Regions from separate parts of the Homo sapiens genome. Here regions 1, 2 and 3 are each linked to region 4. The links come from fine-mapping of genetic effects on gene expression. A gene starts in region 4. Each other region holds a variant in brackets. All regions are shown on one strand. Distances are from middle to middle. Region 1 overlaps TBXAS1 (thromboxane A synthase 1). Region 2 overlaps TBXAS1 (thromboxane A synthase 1). Region 3 overlaps TBXAS1 (thromboxane A synthase 1). Region 4 holds the start of TBXAS1 (thromboxane A synthase 1).

Evidence for each region. PIP is the estimated chance that this variant, and not a neighbour inherited with it, causes the effect.
Region 1: its variant is fine-mapped to the expression of TBXAS1 in whole blood (TOPMed, PIP 0.94).
Region 2: its variant is fine-mapped to the expression of TBXAS1 in whole blood (INTERVAL, PIP above 0.99).
Region 3: its variant is fine-mapped to the expression of TBXAS1 in whole blood (INTERVAL, PIP 0.99).

The regions. Positions count from the first base shown.
Region 1 is chr7:139,884,550-139,889,698 of GRCh38, reverse strand. The region is part of intron 3 of TBXAS1 (thromboxane A synthase 1); the gene reads right to left. Among named protein-coding and RNA genes, the nearest start is that of TBXAS1, 58 kb to the right of the region's middle. RefSeq lists a silencer at 1,315-1,609. The variant C/A (reference allele first, on the strand shown) is at 2,691.
Region 2 is chr7:139,941,148-139,946,296 of GRCh38, reverse strand. The region is part of intron 5 of TBXAS1 (thromboxane A synthase 1); the gene reads right to left. It overlaps LOC105375532 (a long non-coding RNA gene), which reads right to left. Exons shown (of 2, transcript XR_928043.3): 1 at 1,994-5,149; 2 at 1-1,212. Among named protein-coding and RNA genes, the nearest start is that of TBXAS1, 110 kb to the right of the region's middle. The variant G/A (reference allele first, on the strand shown) is at 2,978.
Region 3 is chr7:139,953,119-139,958,267 of GRCh38, reverse strand. TBXAS1 (thromboxane A synthase 1) reads right to left here. Exons shown (of 13, transcript NM_001061.7): 6 at 4,812-4,900; 7 at 2,661-2,809; 8 at 504-634. Among named protein-coding and RNA genes, the nearest start is that of PARP12, 110 kb to the left of the region's middle. RefSeq lists enhancers at 872-1,372, 2,304-2,804. The variant G/A (reference allele first, on the strand shown) is at 1,895.
Region 4 is chr7:139,826,644-139,831,792 of GRCh38, reverse strand. It overlaps TBXAS1 (thromboxane A synthase 1), which reads right to left and starts at 2,529. Exons shown (of 13, transcript NM_001061.7): 1 at 2,314-2,529. The coding sequence starts at 2,402. RefSeq lists an enhancer at 1,657-2,856.

The sequences.
Region 1 (5,149 bases), 58 kb before region 4:
GGAGGGTGCAGTGAGAAGGCACCATCTATGAACCAGAAAGTGAGCCCTCACCAGACAATGAATCTGTTGGTTCCTTGATCTTGGACTTCCCAGTCCCCACAACTATGAGAAATAAATTTCTGTTATTCATAAGCCACCCAGTCTATGGCACTTTGTTATAACAGCTTGAACACATGAGGATGAGGACAAGCTCCAACGGATTAAGAAAAAGATAAAACTATTTTGTCTTTGCCCTGTTCAACCTCTTAATTATGGTGGAATCACCATGTTGTCTCCAGCATTTGAAGTCAGCCTCAGTGATTAATGTTGACTCATCTCTTACTTGTTACAATCAATGACTTGCTGCATTTTTAGGACATTTTCTTTTCTTTTTTTTTTTTCCTTTTTTTTCGACAGGATTACAGTGACATGATCTCAGCTCACTGCAGCCTCTGCCTTCCTGGCTCAAGCGATCCTCCTATCTCAGCCTCCAAAGTACTTGGGACAACAGGCGCACATGCCACCACACCCAGCTAATTTTGGTATTTTTTGTAGAGATGTGGTTTCACTATATTGCCCAGGCTGTCTCAAACTCCTGGGCTCAAGCAATCTCCCCACCTCGGCCTCCCAATGTGCTAGAATTACAGGCACGAGTCACCACACCCGGCCACTACAGGACACTTTCTCTATAAAATTCTCCTTCTTTTCCTTCCATTTCTGATAATCTAAATCACTCTTATCTCTCTCACCTGTGCTATCAGAATGTTTTTTGCTAGTTTTTTTTTTTAACTCAATTCCATCCTCCCCCTGCACCCCTTCTCCACTCTATACCTGCACAACTTTCTTTAAATAACCCACCTCCTTAGCACCAGTCCTGAGGTTCTCTCTCATCTGCCACTGCCAAGGTTGTCCTCTCTACTTGTGCCCCAAACATCACATTTTCCTAGCACACATTTGGCCTCTACTCTTCTTCTTTCTATCTCAGCCAAAACCTCTGAACTTTCTCCCATGCATATGTGCCTGGATACACTCTTCTCCACAGGCCACCTGCCACCTCTCCTTTTTTGGATAGGTATAATGTGAGCTAACCTTTCCCAATGAGCACACACTCAGTGCAGAGACTGTGGGGTACAAGAGGGGAATTCAATATGTCATGAACAGTCATGAAGCAGGAGTGTATGCCCTGTGATATAGTGGAAAGACTGTGGGAAAAAAACCCAGAGGAAAAAAATTGAGAAGCCACCAATTGCAAGAACAGGATTTTGACAAATTACTCAAGGTAGGAAGCCCAGAGATCGAAGGGTCAGTTCCAGGAAGAGAAGGAACAGTGTAGACCCAGGGAACAAGGAAGCAGAAGTCAGTAAGAGTTTCAGACACAGAAGACAAAATTTATGTGAGACACAAAGGCCACAGTGAGCTGGTGGGAAAGAGGAAACTTGGAGGGGGCTGAAGGCAGAACCGAAAGGCAGACACATAAATTGTAAAGGGTTTGGCAGCAAGGAGTGAGATAAGAGGAGAAGGAGCTCTGGGTGAGGACTACTGGGAATTTATTAAAGCAAACTGAATTTATCGTGCAGTGCAAGCATTTGTTGATAATGGGGTCGGTTTGGTTAAAAATGCGCTTACTGGCCTAGCCAAAAGGAAGTTACAGGCAAAGTCACTGGGGTCATACATTCCAATTAGAAATGTGTGGTTCACCTTGACCAGTTGGGATCCAGGGCACAAAGGGAAGTGTAAATTTAACCTGAGCTCACTCTCAAGGTTTGAAAACAAGAAGTAATGGCCACATAATCGTGGTGAAAAGGGGACAACAAAGCATTGCTATAAGATGTCCTCCAAAGGTGAAATGGTATGGTCACTATGGAAAACAGTATGACGGTCTTCAAAGAGCTAAAAATAGATTTACTCTGTGATCTGGCAATTCCACCTCTGCATATATACCCAAAAGAACTAAAAGCAGGGTCTCAAAGAGGTATTTCCACATCCATATTCAAGTAACATTATTCACATTAGCTCAATGCTGGAAGTAACACACTCCGCCATCTACAAACAAACGAATAAACAAAAGGCAGAATAGGCTTACAATGGAATATTACTCAGCCTTAAAAAGGCAGTAGTTCTCCCATGTGCTACAACATGGATTAACCTTGAGGATATTATATTAAGTGAAATAAACCAGTTACAAAAGGAAAAATACCATATGATTCCACTTTATTGAGGTACTTAGAGTAGTCAAATTTGTAGAGACAGAAGGTAAAATGGTGGTTGTCAGGGCCTGGGGGAGGAGGGAAGGGAGAGTTAATGTTTAATGAGGACAAAGTTTCAGCTTTGCAAGATGAAAAAAATTCTGGATGTGAACGATGATGATAGCTGCACGACAATGTGAAGGTACTTAATGCAACTGATCTATACAATGAAAAATAGGAGAGTACATTTTGTGTGATGCATATTTTAACACAATAAAAATAATGTCCTCCAGCCAAATGTCCTTCAGGTTATTCTCAATACCTAGATCTAACCGAGAAGTGGGAGACCATCAATTCTGAAACCATGGGTCACAGTGTTCCTCCTGCTGGCCAGGTTGTAGAGGCATGAAAACCCATCCCACCTACTCATATGAAACCTTTCTCCTATGGGTGTTAGCTGTGGGTTCTCGGGCCCTGAAGCCCTGGTACTCATGAACAGGTATGGATTTTGAGCAGGGCAGAACT[C/A]AGGATGCTAAGTGTCCATTCCAGATTGGAGATAAAGCATCCTTGTGGGCTCCTACACAGAGGAGGACAAAGAGCTGAGGCTTCTTGCTCATGGGATGCTCCAAAGAACCAAAACTCTAGCAGAGAAGGCTAAGCCTTTGGGGGAAGCAGCTAACAATCTTTAGGCTGGAGTCTTTGGGAAGAACCTAGTGGCCATGTCAATCATCAGTCTCAAGCTGTGGTCTGGCAGTGAGATGAAGAAGTGAACTTGAAGAGTTACAAGCAATCTTCAAAGGCAAATGGAAGAGCCATTCAACAGTTGCCTCTTTGTGGTGAATATGCACTAGGCATTACATTAGCCACGGAAAAGATGGAGGTGGCACAAGCCAGGGAGTACCTGGATTTCCTTCCTGCAGTAGCTCTGTTGTGAAGTGCAGTAGTTTTGATTCAATCCTGGATGCCCACATCTCCAGTAGGCCAAGTAGTATCAAGAGGTGCTGGGGGGTGTTTTAACAAAAAAGACCACAATTGCCTCATCAAACTAACATGCTATGACAAGCCATTCACCAGCCATAGATTCCGGGCAAAGGTTAATAGGTTCCTCTTTAAGCCGAGGCCAAAAAAAAAAAAAAAAAAAAAAAAATTCATCTGCAAAGAGTGCCTCCTTAGTGGTTAATGTGGGGAGCCTGGAGAACATGTCAGAGAGTCAGACCTTTATAAATAGGCCAATAAACTGACAGCCTTACTCAGGGTGGAAAAACTTCATAGAGTGGGTTGCAAAATTCTTGCAGCTTGAGGGTGAGATGGAGGAGAGGTTGTTAGGAGCACGGTCTTGAGATACGAAGAATAATCAAAGAACTTATTTTCGTAGTTAAGTTTATATTATCTGCCCTAGGCAAGCAGGCATCATAAAACTTGGTGGGGCCTTGCTAAGGAATTACTTTGTGTGCATAGCTATAGAAATGTTACACATAAGAGTGATCAGGAGTAATTAGAATGCATAGTAAACAACCCAAACTTTAAAAGATTTAAAGATCCTAAGGAAGAAAGAAGAATATGTTCCAGTTTAAAGGCTAACGTCAAACATTCAAAATTTAGTAGAATTTCAAACGTGTATGCGGTGGTGTGTGACTTTTTTTGCTTGAAAGTTCACACTAGTATCTGGAGTTAATTTGGTTTTAGACATTTAGATTCCTTTACCTTTTGCCCTATGTGAGTAACAAGATTTAGAACTGGTTTTTAATCAAGCAAGGATTTCTAAGAACTTGTTTGGAAAAAGTTCCTCTGCTCACAAAATAGTGATGAAAGAGGAACTTTAAGCTCTAAGTGAATTGGGAACTCATTGCTTCTTCAAATTTAGTAATAATTTCTTTTAAATTTTGAAATCAAAGATGGCTTGTCTTTCTTCTTTTTAGATAGAATAGGAATGCTATTTGCATTCTCAATCAGAGTGAAGAGCCCTAAGAATTGGGTAAATGTGTGCACTTTTTGAGACTGTCTGTGCAAAGTTCTTGACAAAAGATATATGCATACAGCCATGTGCTTTCTGGACCTGCTTCCAGATGGGAGAATGCCTTGACAAATGTCACAGTGATTCATGACTGTTTTACATACTCTATTATGCATTTTGGGTTGAACAACTTGGATTTGTTGCAGGTACGCTTCAATTAAATGTGGAATTTATTATTTGAAGATATTAGCTCAAAATAGAGCTTTTATGCAACTTTAATTGAGACATTCTATCGATTGGGAACACATCTGTGCAGAGCTGTCACTTACAGGATAAAGAAGGTACTGATGCCATATTTGATAGTTACTAATGAGGAATGAGTTAGTTCCCTTCCACCTTGAACGTGATATACAGTTCTCCATGGTAGATTTTGGATGTGAATATCAAGGAAAGCAAAATTAAAAATCTGTGGCTGACGCTCCAGCCGCTGCAGTCCTCTCTCCTTTCTAGCCAGGTGCTCTGTCCCTCATCTGCAGGCCCAGCCCTGGCCCCAGAAGCAGGAACAACCTCCAGCCACACATCATGAGACTCGGTGCCTCTCCAGCATGGATCTGTTCCAACCATGATGGACCTGTCCACCCTGACTGATATCGGAGATTAGGTCTGGCTTCTGGTCCTGGGCCTCACATGATGCTGTGAATCTTAGAACTGAATGTCAATTCCTGGTTCATCCTCAGAGCCCTCACCGCTGAGACCCTGCTGTACTACCTAGACTCCTTTCTCAGGGCCGGGGGCTTCTCAGGTTCCTGAACCACCCACTAGTGGGGCCCTGGTGTCCACTGACAGCCTCCTCATCGCTGCTTTACTGGACGCCTGACTACTGTCCAGCTGACACCTTCCTGGTGCACAGCTCTCTCCTGGACTGTCCACTGTGGCCAGTGTTTGCTGGAATGGGGAGCACCATCTTACTCTTTAAACGCTGCCCTTCACCCACAGCAGGAAGTTTAGCAGGAAGCTGCTCTCTCGGTAC
Region 2 (5,149 bases), 110 kb before region 4:
ATGATTACAGCTCACTGCATCCTTGCCCTCCTGGGCTCAAACCATCCTCCCATTTCAGCCCCTCAAGTATTAATATCTGGGACTACAGACACACACAACCACAGCTGGCTAATTTTTTTAATGTTTTGTAGAAACGGGGTCTCCCTATGTTGCCCAAGTTGGTCTTGAACTCCTGGGTTCAAACGATCCTCCCACCTTGGCCTCTTGAAGTTCTGGGATTACAGGCATGAGCCACCATGCCTGGCCAGATCTTCCAAAAATACTTGTTATTTCAGTAATGCTTTGCTGAAACATTTGTAGATCCCCACTGACTGAAGGACACAGTACAAGATTCTTATCTTCCAAAGTCCATTACGAATTGAATCCTGCTAATAACCGTGTGATGAGGCTTAGAAGCAGATCTTCCCCCAGTCAAGCCTTCAGATGAGACCACAGATCAGGCCAGCCATTTGACTACTACTCCAAGACACCTTGATCCCTCTGGCCTCAGCCCTCAGTCCCTCTGGACTCAGCCTTTGCACTCAGCTAAGCCATGCCAGGATTCCTGACCCACAGAAACAATGAGCTAACAAAAGTTTGTTTTAAGCCACTAAGTTTTGGGGTAATTTTGTTACACAGCAATAGATAACTAATACACTCTCAATATTGCTCTTTTGTGGTAACTATTGCATGTTGTCATGGATTAATGAAGTTTTTGGTATTTGTTATATCAAGAATGAGCATAGCACACCCCATTCTGTTGATTTTCTAGAAATACCTGTGTGATGACTGATTGATCAAATGTTCCTTGAGAGCCTTGACATAGAAGGTACCCAAGAAACATGAACAGATTGAGGCACTGTCTCTTAGCATGAATACAGTGTGGTTTGCTGAAAACTGGCTCTGAAGAAGAAAGCTGAGACTCATGCTGGTCCTATGTGTTACTTTGGACCTGGCATTTGAATCTCTCTGAACGTGGGTCCTCATCCCTAAATGAAGGGCTGATCGCAATGAGCTATAATGTCCCTTTCCACTGACATTTGAAGATTCCAAGGAGGTCACAAAGCATCAGGTTGAGACAGTTGCTTGAAGCCATGGAGAGAGCAGCCAAATTCTTAGCTCAGTGCAGGGAAGTGTCAGATCATTGGTCCATGTGCTTTCAGCAACACATCCCATTCCCAAGAAAGCCTTTTGTCATTTCTTTGACACATCAACTTCAGAATACATAGGGACCTAAAGGGCAGAATCTGGTTATTTTTGTGTTCAAATGAGAATTGGAACCCCAGATATCCTGACTCCTGGCTTGTTGCTTTCCCACAAAACTCAGCCTCCACATTTCCTTTGCTCCTTAGTTTATTCACTTCTAGGTCATTCTGTGCAGATCTTATGTCATAAACTTGAGAAAGAAAAAACCCACCATCTTTAAGCCTTTGGAGTTCCTGAAAGTTTGGACAATGCTGAGTGCTAGGGAAAACATATTTCCTACACAGAGAGAGGGAAGGAGAGGGTCTTTTTTACATAACCCTATCCATCTAAACAGAGATAAGCCCCAAACGTTGATGGTGTGTAGCTTGGGTGACTTGTTGATCCACACACGAAGAGGGACTCAAAAGAGCCACAGTGGACACCGCTGCCTTGATGTCATAACATGGCCCCTGGGAGCCTGCCCATACTTGGGGCTACTACAAAGAGGAGACTCCTCCAGACAATTCACAGTTCCCCTCATCTGCACCAGAAAGATTTGCCCCATGGGTCTGGGAAATGGCTGGCTTGGGGGCTAAACAGCTGAAATGAAACCCTTTTTCCTAACACAGAGTTCTGAGCAGGTCACTCCCTCACTTTCAAGTATTTAATAGCTCCTCGAGCTCTAGTGAAGTGTGCACCAAACACTCTCTCGGCACAGAACAGTGAACTGTACGTGCCTCAACCTACTTTTTCAGCTTTCTTTCTCACTAATCCCTTACATGTACTCTGTGTTCCAGCCAATTTGTACTCCCCTATTCCCTGAACATACCCTGTACTTTTCTGTCCAGATGCCTTGATTCCTGCAGCTCATTCCACCTGCAATGCACCTTCTCCCTCTGTCAAAACAGCAAAATCTTCAGAGCTCAATTCCGGTGCTACTCACTGCTTCCTCCCTGCCAAAGTGGCTTCTGATGCTCAAAGCAGGACCCCAGCTCTGTCACCACCTTCCACGATTGGTAATAATGCAGTGATTTATGTACCTTGTTTCTCTTCTACATTATAAACTCCTTAACAACAGGAACTAATTAATAAATATTTGTTGACCTTTATAAATTGAACATTTCATCTGATTTGGCCCTTGGTGGACCTGGGGGCAATATTTTGGGGCTGATGTCAGAGGAGGGTTTTCTGAATAAGTAAGGGTCAGCTGCTGGGGGTGGGGGAAGGTATTTAAACGTATTTCTGGGTTTTTTTTTAAAATGAAAAAATTAATGCCTTAAAGTGCTCTAAACTGGTGACCAACAAATGAAAAATTAATTTCCACTAATGAAACTTATCACTTCCTTCTTCCACTACACCATCGCTAAAAGCCACCCAGATATTAAAAACATCCACGACTCCTTTTTATGCAAAATTTCCTGCTGCTAAGTATCAGCTCTAGCCATCTAGGTGAATAATCAAGTGTCATTTCTAATAAGTCAGTGGCTCCTGTCAAGACTTGTGACCAATTAGAAGTCACCCCAATGAGGAGGTGGCTGCTGGCGTTGCCAAGCAACAGCCAAGCTGTGAGGCACATTTAGATGCTCTTTTAGATTTAACCAGCGGCAAGTCAGAGTGACATTATAATTCTGGCAAAGGAAAGCCAAATTATAACCCAGGCTGGGGTGCCCATGATGAGGAGTGTGTTTTCTTTTAAATGCAAATGCAAAAGGAACATTTAAACCAGAATTTAAACAGTCCATCATGATAGTGATTTTAATTAGTAGATCAGGTGTCGGTGGAACACGACTGTGTCTCAGGATAATGGTCTCTC[G/A]CTGCTAGATAAATACCCAGCTATTCCAGAAAATGGGCAACTGGTCAGGCAAGGCCAATGTATTTTTGGACTCTGAAGTATTGATGACTACAGCCACACTTGGTTATAATGACGTTCATTTTTATTGTTCAGGAGGATTAAGAAATAAAAGCAAATATTAAAAATAGACTGCTGGAAATGGATGCCTCCTAGAGAAGGCTGCTTGCTCTAATGTTATTGGGAAGCGTGTTCTGCCTTAGAAGCCCCCATATGTGACCATCTGGAGAGTTTACAGTGAAAATTTAAAGGCCAAACTAAACTGTGATGATGACTGTAATTCTGAAAAGACTTTTGCACTGAAATGCATTTACTCATAAGCGGGCTATATCAACTTAAATTTTTAAAAATTGTAGTCATTCTCGAGTAACATGTCGTCTCCAAGTCAGGAAATGCCTACAGGGAGTAATAACCACATCTGCCTCTGCCTTTAAGATTCATACATTATTGACTGTGCCTTCTTGACGGGGAACATCTGGATGAAAAGTGAAAAATTAGGCAGAGAGCCGGATCAGTGCTGTGCGAGATACCAGCCTCCCATTTTATCTGACTTTTCTTTAACTGAGTCCCTATGCATAGCAACATGATTGGTTCATTTACTCTTGAGTGACACATATATCCTTAGGCACTCATCTATGAAGATTCATTGTCTCCCATATCTGCTCAATGGGGTACCATCAGCTCTTAGTTATCTGGGTGAATGAAGAAAGCCCATCATTTATATTGGGCTTTGAGAATGGAGAACATACAAGCTGCCATATTGGATTGGATCCATGGTTAATGAGGTTTGAAGCTTAGTCTCTGCTAGAGGCACTCAAAAACTGGGTTCTTCATGGAAGCTACCTGCAAAGGATAATTGCTCAAGAGACTCATTTCTCTCAGTAGCCAACCAGGAAGTTAACAACCCACGTTCTCTCCTTTTGAAAACCTATTTGAGCCCAGAATAAACAAAGTTAAGCAGGTTTCTTTACTGCAGGCCTTTCTCAAGCCTTTCATATGCTCAGGTACATGGTGAATCTTGAAGAATATAGTTTGTAATATTTCACCAAATTATTTGACTATGGGGCCTTTTCGGTCCTCCATATTTCAAATCCTTTTCCCTGGTAGTAATTCATAGCTTGAAATTCATCATCATATAAGTACAGTTTAGATGCCTTTCTCCTAAATGTATTCTTTTATTCTTGCTTACACTGAAGGTTACCTGCCACTTTTGTGCTGACTTATGCAATCTTACAAGAGTCTCAGAAAGTTATTCCTATTGATTTAATATCTTTCAAATCAGAACAGCTTAGAGGAATATACAAATATATAGATTCCACTGTGTTCTCTCTCTTTCAGATGAGTTATAAAATTTAAAAATAAATCTAGTGCTAACCTGGGTCCCCAGGGGATCACATTATTTATACATTTTCCGTCAGAGAAGTACTAATTTAGCCCCAGTTTTATTTCCTGAAATTAAACCTATTTATTCCCTCATCCTTAATAAAGTTTTACACAATCCCAGGGTTACTACTCACTAATAGTCTTTGGTAAAGAATCTAGCAAAAGACTGTGAAAATCTAAATCTACAGTTGTGCTTTTTAAAACGTCAATTCTTCGGGGGATGGAGTGAAAACTCTGGCCAGTTAAGCAGACAAAATCTTCCCTAACAACAGCAACAACAACAAAAAGTCAGTTGTTTTTCCAGGAATGCTCAGCCATCCTTTTCTATAAATCCCAATAACTTGTTTGTCGCTGGCTATGATTCCAATAGTCTCTTTTTCCTGACTTGGAGATGCATGAATCACATTTTCCCTGGTTCTCTGTTGCTCTATATTATCCCTGGTATGACATAGGCCAAAAAAAAAAAACAATTTTAATTTAAATACAAATATGGCTTCATGATATGATGCTCATTTTAAAGCCATTTTCAAGCATTGTTGACTGAGGCAACCTAATATCCGCATAAACGAAGACAACGCCATCCAAAGCTTTTGAATATTGACCATACTTAAAGACACAGGTAGAGAGGGACTTAGGCTGCCAAGGTTCTAAAGGAGAAAGCCTCAGAATTCCAAGGGGAAACAAACTTTTATTTCAAGAATAAACTCTGATGTTTGATAACAAAAGTCCAAAGACTACTTACAAATTCAGAAA
Region 3 (5,149 bases), 130 kb before region 4:
AACCACGAGTTCTGTAGCGACATCCTCCATGCTGAGTGGGAGTGTGGGGTTAGTGACTGACAGTTGCCGAACTCTCTAATAAGCATGCTGTTCATGCTGGAGAACTCCATCTTGCTGGGTTTTCAATATAAAGAATATGCTCATGAAAATTGCATGTGGGCACACTTACCCAGAAAATTCTTCTGGGCTATTCTAACCTGTGCTTGGGTTGATGCTTGCACTAGGGAGACAGTTTTGGGGGCGGCTTTAATTCTACCCGTCCGTGTCCGAGGATGTACACATTGCTGTAGGCTTCTCTCTGCCGTCCCACCCTCCCTTTCTTGTCTGACCTTCCTCAACCTTCCTCTGTTCTCTCCACTGTCCCTGGAAGCTGTAAGTGGTGGGTTGCTGAAGGACGGCACGGTGTGATGTGCGGGGCTGAGAGGGAAGAGAAAGAGCAGAGACAGTGATGCCAAAGTCGGCTCCATTCCATTTCAAGGCTGTGTCCTATTAAAATACGTTACCTCTTCGGCAGCTTGCTGGTCCCGCAAGGCAATCACATTCCTAATGAGTTTGTTAAAAAAGCCATTCAGTTCGTCTCGGTTCTTATTGGGCAAAATCCGGGCCAGTGGGACCATTATGGATGGAAATGATACTTGAAAGAGAAAAACAAAAGTGGCATTGAAAAGGGGGTGATAATAAACCAGGGCCATTAGACGCCTGTTCCCGGGAAGCAAACGCGGGCCTGGAATCGGAGCCGTTTTGGAGTCCTGCCCTCCCCGCCGCACTGCTGCTTCTGAGAGCAGGGGTGATGTCTCACTCCCTCTCGGTACTCCTCACCATTCCTGGCACATAGTAAGCACTCAATAAACATCTGTGCAATTAATCGAGTCTGCACTTCCATCTGGCCCTCAAGAGGTCAAGGTCACCCTCATAAATTAATGTTTCAGGTCCTGGGGATGAGACCTGAAGGTCTTTGTACTTCATTAAGAGAGAAAGGATTACAGGCTGTTTCAAGCCTTAGCAAGTGGTAGAAGCTGATTTACTTTTTACAAACTTTCTGGTCATTTGAATTTTCTTTCCAGTGGATAATTGTTCCCAGCATGACCTCCTGAATTGCTCCCAAGAGCTGCCACTGCAGCTGCTGACAAGGGTACTGGCTGTTGCTGCTGTGGGTGCCTCCCTTGCCGGCCCCTGGGTGCAGCATGGGCCCTTGCTGCCATGTGCTGGGGATCGGGCTGCCAGAGTCAGGAACCCCTCATCTCCCCTGGAGAGGGGCACTGGCTGGGTTCAGCTTCTCAGCTTCCATTGTGGGTTCACCCTGTACCGGGCTCTATGGGAGCTGGGCTGGGGAGAACATCTCCAGACACACATGCTCTCAGAATGCGCAGGCCCATTTTCAAGAGCCAGAGTCCGAACCAATGTGACACAGCAGCAGGAGGGCCCTGCAGAGGCAGAGAGGAGAAATAGAAGGGATGGCACAACTGAGCCACCTGCCCCACAGGCCTGGGCCGTGGTTGAGGCACAAGGGGCAGACACAGCCTGCGCTGCCTCCAAGATCGGTGGAAAGGGTGCAGGAAGAGACTGCTGGACACTCAGAGTGACTCTGCCTACGATTTCAGGGCGGAGCCAGTGAGGTGACGGGCTCCCATGGACATCGGCTCAGAAACGGGAATGAAACTGGTCAAGGAATGAATGGAATTTACCAGCCCAGCAGAATGGTTAGAAATCATGGCAATAATCAATACCAAGCATAACAACACGTCAATGCTCCTATAAAAGCAAGAAGATACTAGAATTGGCCAGAGGGCAAAATCTCACTTCTACAATAAAAATAAAATAAGTCCTGGTGTGGTGGCTCACGCTTGTAATCCCAGCACTTTGGGAGGCCAAGGTGGGCGGATCACCTGAGGTC[G/A]GGAGTTTGAGACCAGCCTGACCGACATGGAGAAACCCCTTCTCTACTAAAAATACAAAATTAGCTGGTCGTGATGGTGCATGCCTGTAATCCCAGCTACTCAGGAGGCTGAGGCAGGAGAATCGCTTGAACCCAGGAGGCGGAGGTTGCGGTGAGCCGAGATCGTGCCATTGCACTCCAGCCTGGACAACAACAGCGAAACTCCATCTAAAAAAATAATAATAATAATAAATAAAATAAAATAAATAGACTGGTCCTCGTGCATTGGGTGACCTAATCCTCATCCACCACACAGGATTTCTGTGTGTTGGGCTTCAAGTGGAGAAGTCTTGTGAAGAGGATTTTGCTGAAGGAAAGAAATATGCCCTAGGAAATGAAAGGCTTTGGGTTCCAGTCTCAGCTCGGCCTTTCTAGGCCTGTTTCACACCTGAGAAATAGGGACAAGAATATTTTTCTCATAGGGTGAGTACTAGGACTAAGTGAGGCAACGCACACCCCGTGCCTAACACGGTGCGTCCCAACCGTTCTCACCATGGCGGTGGGGCCACTTATTACCAATGCCAGGGCTACAGCATTGCTAATAAGTGGCCCTAGGCGGGTGACAAGAGGAACCCGGTGGCTCCATAAGACAAAGCCTCTGCAGGGGAACAACCCGAGTGCCCTTTCCCAGTGGCAGGGACAGAGCCCCAGAAGCCACCCCAGGTGTCATGGGGTCTGCCCAACTTGCTGGAGTCATCGCAGCGCCCCGGGCTGCAGCCGCACTTACAGAGTAAAACCAGGATAGGTCTGGGGATGCAGAATTCGAAGAAACGCTTGCAGTGTTTCACAAAGGGATCCTCAGGGGCCTGCCAGGAGTCCACCGGGGTGCCAAAGGCGACGCTGGCAACCACATCTGTGGTGTAATTGCAGTAGCACCTACGGGAGATGGGAGCACAGAGATCTGAAAGGACTCTGGCAGGGGCTACCCACAATGGCCCCCTCCAGAGGAGGAGGGCCTGAATTGCTTACACTGGCTTGCCCAGCCCTGCAGATGTGTCTGGAAGAGGAGCTTCTGCAGATCTGGGGGGAGGTGGAGGGAGATGGGCTCCTGGATGGGGCACTCTGAGCAGTGACGGCAGAGGGTGGGAGGAGACACGAAGACCTGGCGTCTAAACAAAGACCTGGGAGGAGAGGAGGGCACAGCCTCTTCCACCTTCGAGCCTCAGGCAGCTGTGGTCAACCAGAACACAGCCAGGTACTAAGAAGGACACTTTATAGTTTCCTCCCTGGGAAGGAGGGCACACAGGTGACCCAACGCCTACATGCTGTACCCAAAGCTCTGCACAGCCCAGCTCAGGCCAGAATCTAATGATTGACTGATAGACATCAAATTGTCCTTGATGAATTAACAACCTAATTATCTAGTTTTATTAACTTTGTCTCCCTCTTCCTCTTAATGATTTTACAGTTTTCTTAATAGCAATGAACAAAAAGCAAGGGCTCTTAGCACTCAAATAAACACAAGACAAACTTTAAGGCAGGCTTCATGAACATCTGTATATTATTACAGAAAACATACATTGTGCTTTAGAAACAAACAGAAGGAAAAGTGTCTGGCAGGAGCTCCAGAAAATTTAACCTCTTAGGCTATAGGAAAGCTGCCCCCTCAAAAGGCCATTTTAAACTCAAATGATTCTTTTTGTTATCTTATAGGAGTAGTCAGATTAAGTTCTTTTCCAAAAAGCTAAAAACTGGGTTATTAATATCTTTTTATAATTAAAAGGCCAATTTTTGTTCTCAATGTAGGCACACACTTAACTCCTTTTGTACATGAATTCTATAACCACTAACTTATCATTAAGGAATACATGACGTTTCCAGATGACTTTTAAAATTCACACTGCTTTTATTGAAAACGTTTCTACAACTGATTACACGTTTCCCTGCTAGAGTGAAAACAAGAATGAGACTACTGAATGTGATTTCATCTGATCCTGAAGGTTGAAGATTTAAGGGTCTTGAGGGTTATTTACTTTGCTTTTATAGCTGATGAGGCCACCTTATCTTTAGCCAACTCATGCATCCTATAATAATCAGAGACAATGTGGATGAAAAGACTGTGTAAACTGGTGCAATACCAGTGTTGGTGATGATTATGTTATTATTTTATTAGCAATGATAATAATGAATAAATTTCTGGATGATTCACCATCCCACTTTATTCTTTATCTGCTGTAAGCCATGATTTGGCATAAAATGACTAAAGCAAAGGTGGCTAAATCTTTTGGCTTGCCTGGGCCACGTTGGAAGCAGGAGAATTGTCTTGGCCACACATAAAATACAGTAACACTAACGATAGCTGATGAGAAAAAAAAAAACTGCAAAAAAACTCACAATGTTTTAAGAAAGTTTATAAATTTGTGTTGGGCCACATTCAATGCCATCCTGGGCTGCTTGTGGCCAGCGGGCTGTGGGTCGGACAAACTTAGACTAAAGATGTTTTTTTAAAGCAAAAACCTTTTAGTTACAAAATGACGAAAAGCCAGATAATCAGTTATTTAAATTTGGTGTCCACCACTAAATTATAGCTTCTGGGCTGAGGTGCACCACAATTTTTCTTGAAGTGAAAATGCTTGAACTTTCCCCCCATCCCTGTCCTTAGGCGCAGGCCTGTCCTGCCCATTCCTGGGTCTGTGGAGGTCAGAGGGTGGATCCATCCACAGGTTCGACAGGACGCACGTACCCTGGCTCTGCTCACATCTCTTTCCCATGTTAAGTGGGTTTCTTTTCTTTTTATTAATCAGTCCATCCATGCTTTTATGAGCTTCTAGCGTTTCCACAGTTTGCTAGTCCCAAGGTAATTGTCAGCAATTATGGACAGTTACAAGAAGCAGTGATTCAAAAACTCGATTTCTCATCTGTAATGCAGCAGCCTTACCTCTGGATGTCAAATGCGTCCCCAGATTCCGCATAGCGTTTTAAATGAGCCAGGAGAAGGTCGCAGGCTTGGCTGATGAGGGGAACCATCTGATAATGGATAACAAAGGTGTAATTAGGGCACCATGCCGGGAGTACACCTAAATTGGCTGCAGATGAAGAGGTTATATGTAGTGCTTTCTGGGAAAATGAACACTGTTTGGAAGATATTTTTCACACAGCTAAGATTCAAGAAGAAGATCCTAAAATTCACAAATATTCATAAAATACAATAGCTCTAAACGTCTATTTTAGCTTAAGCATTTTTTATCTTTGGAAGCAAAAAAGAAGAACAGATTT
Region 4 (5,149 bases):
GCCCAGCTAATTTTTGTATTTTTAGTAGAGATGGAGTTTCACCATGTTGGCCAGGCTGGTCTCGAACTTCTGACCTCAAGTGATCTGTCTGCCTTGGCCTCCCAAAGTGCTGGGATTATAGGCATGAGCCACCGCGCCCAGCCCATTTGATTTCACCTTCTCAGGGTTTAGGTTCTCTGCTGCCATCTCACCTGGCTGGATGGCACATGTAACACTTAAAGCAAAGACTAATGTGCTGCAATGTTTAATCCACTCCCCCTGCCAGTTTCTCCTGCAAGTGTCTCTACACCTCCATCTTTCCTTGCCTGTGAATCCTCTCACTGGAGGAAAAGCACCCCTGTCTCTTCCACACATATCCTTTCAAGACAATGAAGCAGGAAGGGGGCCTTGCCTCATTCAAGCTGGTGGCTGTTGCTTAGTGGCTGACTAGAGTCTCACCCGGAACAGAAGGGTTGAAAGCCCAAGGGTGGTTCCCCTTGCACTGAATCAAGGGATGGACCCAAAAGCACCAGAGCCAGGGCCGTGACCTCTCTCCTGCTGCCTCTGCTCCTCCTGCAGTATCCTCTCTAGACATCCAGCTCACCCCCAGAACCTCTGTGTCTCCCCTGCCTTGGGCACCTTCTCCAGATCTCCTGCTTCCTGACCTTGTACCAGGGCCTCCTCCAGACTGGGCACACATTAACAGGTTAATAAATATTTTTGCAATAACAAATAGAAGTCAGCTCTCACTTCCTGTTTACCACTTCTGCTTGGTACATTTATCTTAATCTCTGCATCTTTGAACCAGGTTATTAATATGGCCCAAGAATAGACAGCAAACACATAGCTGCCCTGCTGAATGGTGTGGTGTTCCTACATGGCAGGCACTGAGCTGGAGGCTCAGACACAACAAAGACTGAAACAAAAGTGTAAAAAAGTGTCCGCTTTGAGAACCACAGTCAGAGCATAGCTATTGATGAGATTAATATGAATAAGCACATTAGTAAGAAATTAAAAATAAACCTAAACCACTAAAGACTTATTTTCTTTTAGGTTACATAGATGATAGATGGTTAATTATAGTGGCTGACATCGACTAAGCACTTTCTGCATGTCAGACACTGTGCTTCGGGCTTCCCGGAGCATAAAAACACATTGAGATGGATTATTGGGGGCTGGGGGTAGGGAAGGAGCTACCATTTGCTCTTGGTTTTACATGTGGCCAGTTTCAATCCAAGGTAAGCTACAATGAGATAAAAAAGTTCAAAAAAAAAATTAAACCAGTTAAAAAGAAAAACAGCACTGGGACTGAGGCTGGGTTTCAGAGCCAATTTCCAAGAAGTAATTTCATCATCATAGAACATCAAACGTGAATTCCACTCTCAGCTATGCAAATTCCAAAAGAATAATACCTCACATTTGCATAATGCTTGATGCTTTTCAAAGTGCTTTCCCAGTTATTAATCTAGAGAAGGCTTTATTACTACTGAAAACATAAATTAAAATTCTGTTCGGACTCCAGTCCTCCATTATTTTTTCCACTCACTTTGCCCTCAAAAGCCAGAGCCATCTAAATCCAGGTGCTTTTGATTGAATGGGTAACTCTAATAAGTTTAACTGACAGGGCGAATATGCATAAATGTAGCATATTATGAGGCCTTCGACCTACAGACACCAGAGTCAGCCTTAGGAAAATTTGCTGTTGAATTAACAAAACCACAGGGGAGCAACTCGGAGTTCAAGTTTGAGATCCTTTCAGGGTCTCAAATTTTGTAGGAGCTGCACACACTATGTTCATCAGAATCCATCTCCCTCTATCAACTATGAGAAATTAGATCTACCACTTTGTCCTTAACCCTACAGAAATCCCCCTCAATGACTTCCTGCAAAGAGGCCCACATTTGCCAAACAGCTCCTACGTCTTGTTTTGTTTTGAATGTAATATGAACCAAGAGGCTGAATTCACTGTAAATCCAACAAGGACAGAGGATTTTAGAAAAATGAGGTGAGGAGATATGACGGGGTTCAAGGAAATGCTTCTACCCAAACCTAATGCCTTTCCAATTTGTTTCTTTTTCCATCTCTTTCAAACTTAATTATGTGTAGCGTTCTCAGTCACTGAATCACCAGCCTTTCCTGACACTTCAATCTCATGCATTTTAGCAAAAGATTAACCTGGCTGTTTGCTTTTAATTCTGAAGCTGTGTTAATACTCACTCCCGCTAGATTAGAAAAGAAGAAAAACACACTCCCACATACCCCGCCATGGCACCAGCAAGGCTCCAGGGTGAGACGGCTGACGCTGTCACAGTCCCTAGGGCTGGCTGCACTTACCATTTCAGGAGGGCCAAGAGAGCCACTGACAGGGCCACCGTCACCATGGGGCCATTCACTTCCAATTTTAGAAACCCCAAGGCTTCCATCATTCCTCTGAGACCCCAGAGTGGTGGTCTTCCAGATGAGACAGGAGGCTGATCTCGCCGCCCTTATGGGAACCGTGCTCTGCAGGTAGAAAAGGGAACAGGCAACCAAGCAAACATCACATGGAGTGGGCCCCCACAATGTGCTCTTTCTCAGAGTGTCTCCCTATAAAGAGGAAGGAAGAGGAGGGCACAACAAAGGGTTTCAGTGTAAAGGAATGAATCAGCAACTTTATTCCTTGATGACTGCACTGTCAATAAACATTTATATTAACTTCCTCAGAGAAGAAAAGCAAACTTCCCCATGTTTGCTGAGAAACAAAATGGTTGTAACCACGGACTTGTACTCTGAGAGGAAGTCTTCAAAGAGAGACTCTTCTCCAAAATGTCTATCTATATCTATCTCTATGTCTATATCTATATCTATATCTACATCCATCTATAATTTTTTAAATTCACAATTAAGTGAAGATACATGTCAAGAGATTCTGAATATCCCAGAAAAATACAGGACCAGACGCCAGCCTGATCAAAATGCTGGCTGCTTTGAGGACAACCATCCCACCAAGTCCATTAGTTGCTGGGTCTGAGGACCTGTCTGAGTGTCTGGCTGTTGGAGCAAAGCAAAGATCCCGATTGGGGTCAGTGTTCTCATGGTGAGTTGGAGGGCTTCTCAAGTGTTTGAAGGCAGATCCGTAGGCTCATATATGGGTCCTTTGTTCTAGCTTTGAGCTTATCTGACTAAAGTGGACAGAGAGATGGAGGGGATCATAGTGGCTGGGTGGCAGGACTAGATTGCAGCTTCAGACAGAGCAGCATCTGGAGGCTTCCATGGTGAATTTTAGCTCCAGATCAACTGCAAGAAAAAACCAGCAATCCCAAAAGGACCCACAGACTCTCTGAAGGAACCAGACTGCTCCTGCAGGACCCAGAAGACACTCCAAATACTGTGAGTGCCCCATTTGCGGAAGTGGGAAAGGGAGACCCTCCTCTCCCAACACAATCCCCCAATATTGAATGGGAGAAATATTCAATGAAATAGCTTAAAGAAAAAATAATTGAAAATTCAGGAAACTTTGGACACACTTTTAGAAATGTGAAATGCTCTGGAAAGTCTCAGCAATAGAATTGAACAAGTAGAAGAAAGAAAATCAGAGCTCAAAGACAAGGTCTTCAAATTAACCCAATTCAACAAAGACAAAGAAAAAAGAATAAGAAAATATGAACAAAGCCTCCAAGAAGTCTGGGATTATGTTAAATGACCAAACCTAAGAATAATTGGTGTTCCTGAGGAAGAAGAGAATTCTAAAAGCTTGGAAAACATATTTGGGGGAAGAATCAAGGAAAACTTCTGCAGCCATCTAGAGACCTAGACATCCAAATACAAGAAGTACAAAGAACACATGGGAAATTCATTGTAAAAAGATCTTTGCCTCAGCACATTGTCATCAGGTTATCCAGAGTTGAGACAAAGGAAAGAATCTTAAGAGCTGTGAGACAGAAGAACCAGGTAACCTGTAAAGGAAAACCAATCAGATGAACAGCAGATTTCTCAGCAGAAAACCTACAAGCTGGAAGGGATTGGGGCCCTGTCTTCCGGCTCCTCAACAAACCAATTATCAGCCAAGAATTTTGTATCCAGTGAAACTAAGCACCATATATGAAGGAAAGATACAGTCATTTTCAGACAAACAAATCCTGAGAGAATTCGTCATTACCAAGCCACCACTACAAGAACTGGTAAAAGGAGTTCTAAATCTTGAAACAAATCCTGGAAACACATCAAAACAGAACCTCTTTAAAGCATAAATCACACAGGACCTATAAAACAAAAATACAAGTTAAAAAACAAAAGCAAAAAACAAACAAAGAAGTACACAGGCAACAAAGAGCCCGATGAATGCAATGGTACCTCACATTTCAATATTAACACTGAATGTAAATGGCCTAAATGCTGCACTTAAAAGATACAGAACTGCAGAATGGATAAGAACTCACCAACTAACTATCTGCTGCCTTCAGGAGACTCACCTGACACATAAGGACTCATGTAAACTTAAAGTAAAGGGGTGGAAAAAGACACTTCATGCAAATGGACACCAAAAGCCAGCAGGGGTAGCTATGGGCTTCCTTTTCTGTGCCCCCACAGGTCTTAGGATGGTCACAGGTACATTTGTTACAGAAGGCTGTGGTCACAGGTGCAGATTCCCTGGAAAGGAGTGAGAGAAAAGACAGGGAGGGCACACAGAAGGCTGCTGCCTTCACCCAGAGAGAAGGGATGCTTGGCTAGAGGAGAGAGGGAGGTGGGAAGAAGTAGATGGACTTGAAATATATTTTGGGGGTGGGTTCATGCTCTGCAGAAGTTCCTGGTGGGGTGCATATGAAAGGGAAGGGGAAAGGAGGACCACACCTGACCCTCAGGTTCCAAACTTGAGCTACAGGTATATCAGGTGCCATTCATTGAAACAGGGAGTCTGGGAAAGGTGAGGTATTGTTGGGAAAATCAAGAATTCTGATTCAGTTTTGTTAAGCCTGAGATGCCCTGGAGACATCTGAGTGGAGGTGTCGAGCCAGAGAGCACTGATGGCTGAAAATATGAATAATAACAATTGATCATGATCATGTCATTTGAGTGCTTACTACACACTAGTTATTCTAGGAGCTTTCCTATGTGTCAACTCATTTAATCCTCATACACACACCTAGCGGGTAAATCTTATGGTTAGCCCCAAGTTACAGAGGAAGAAACT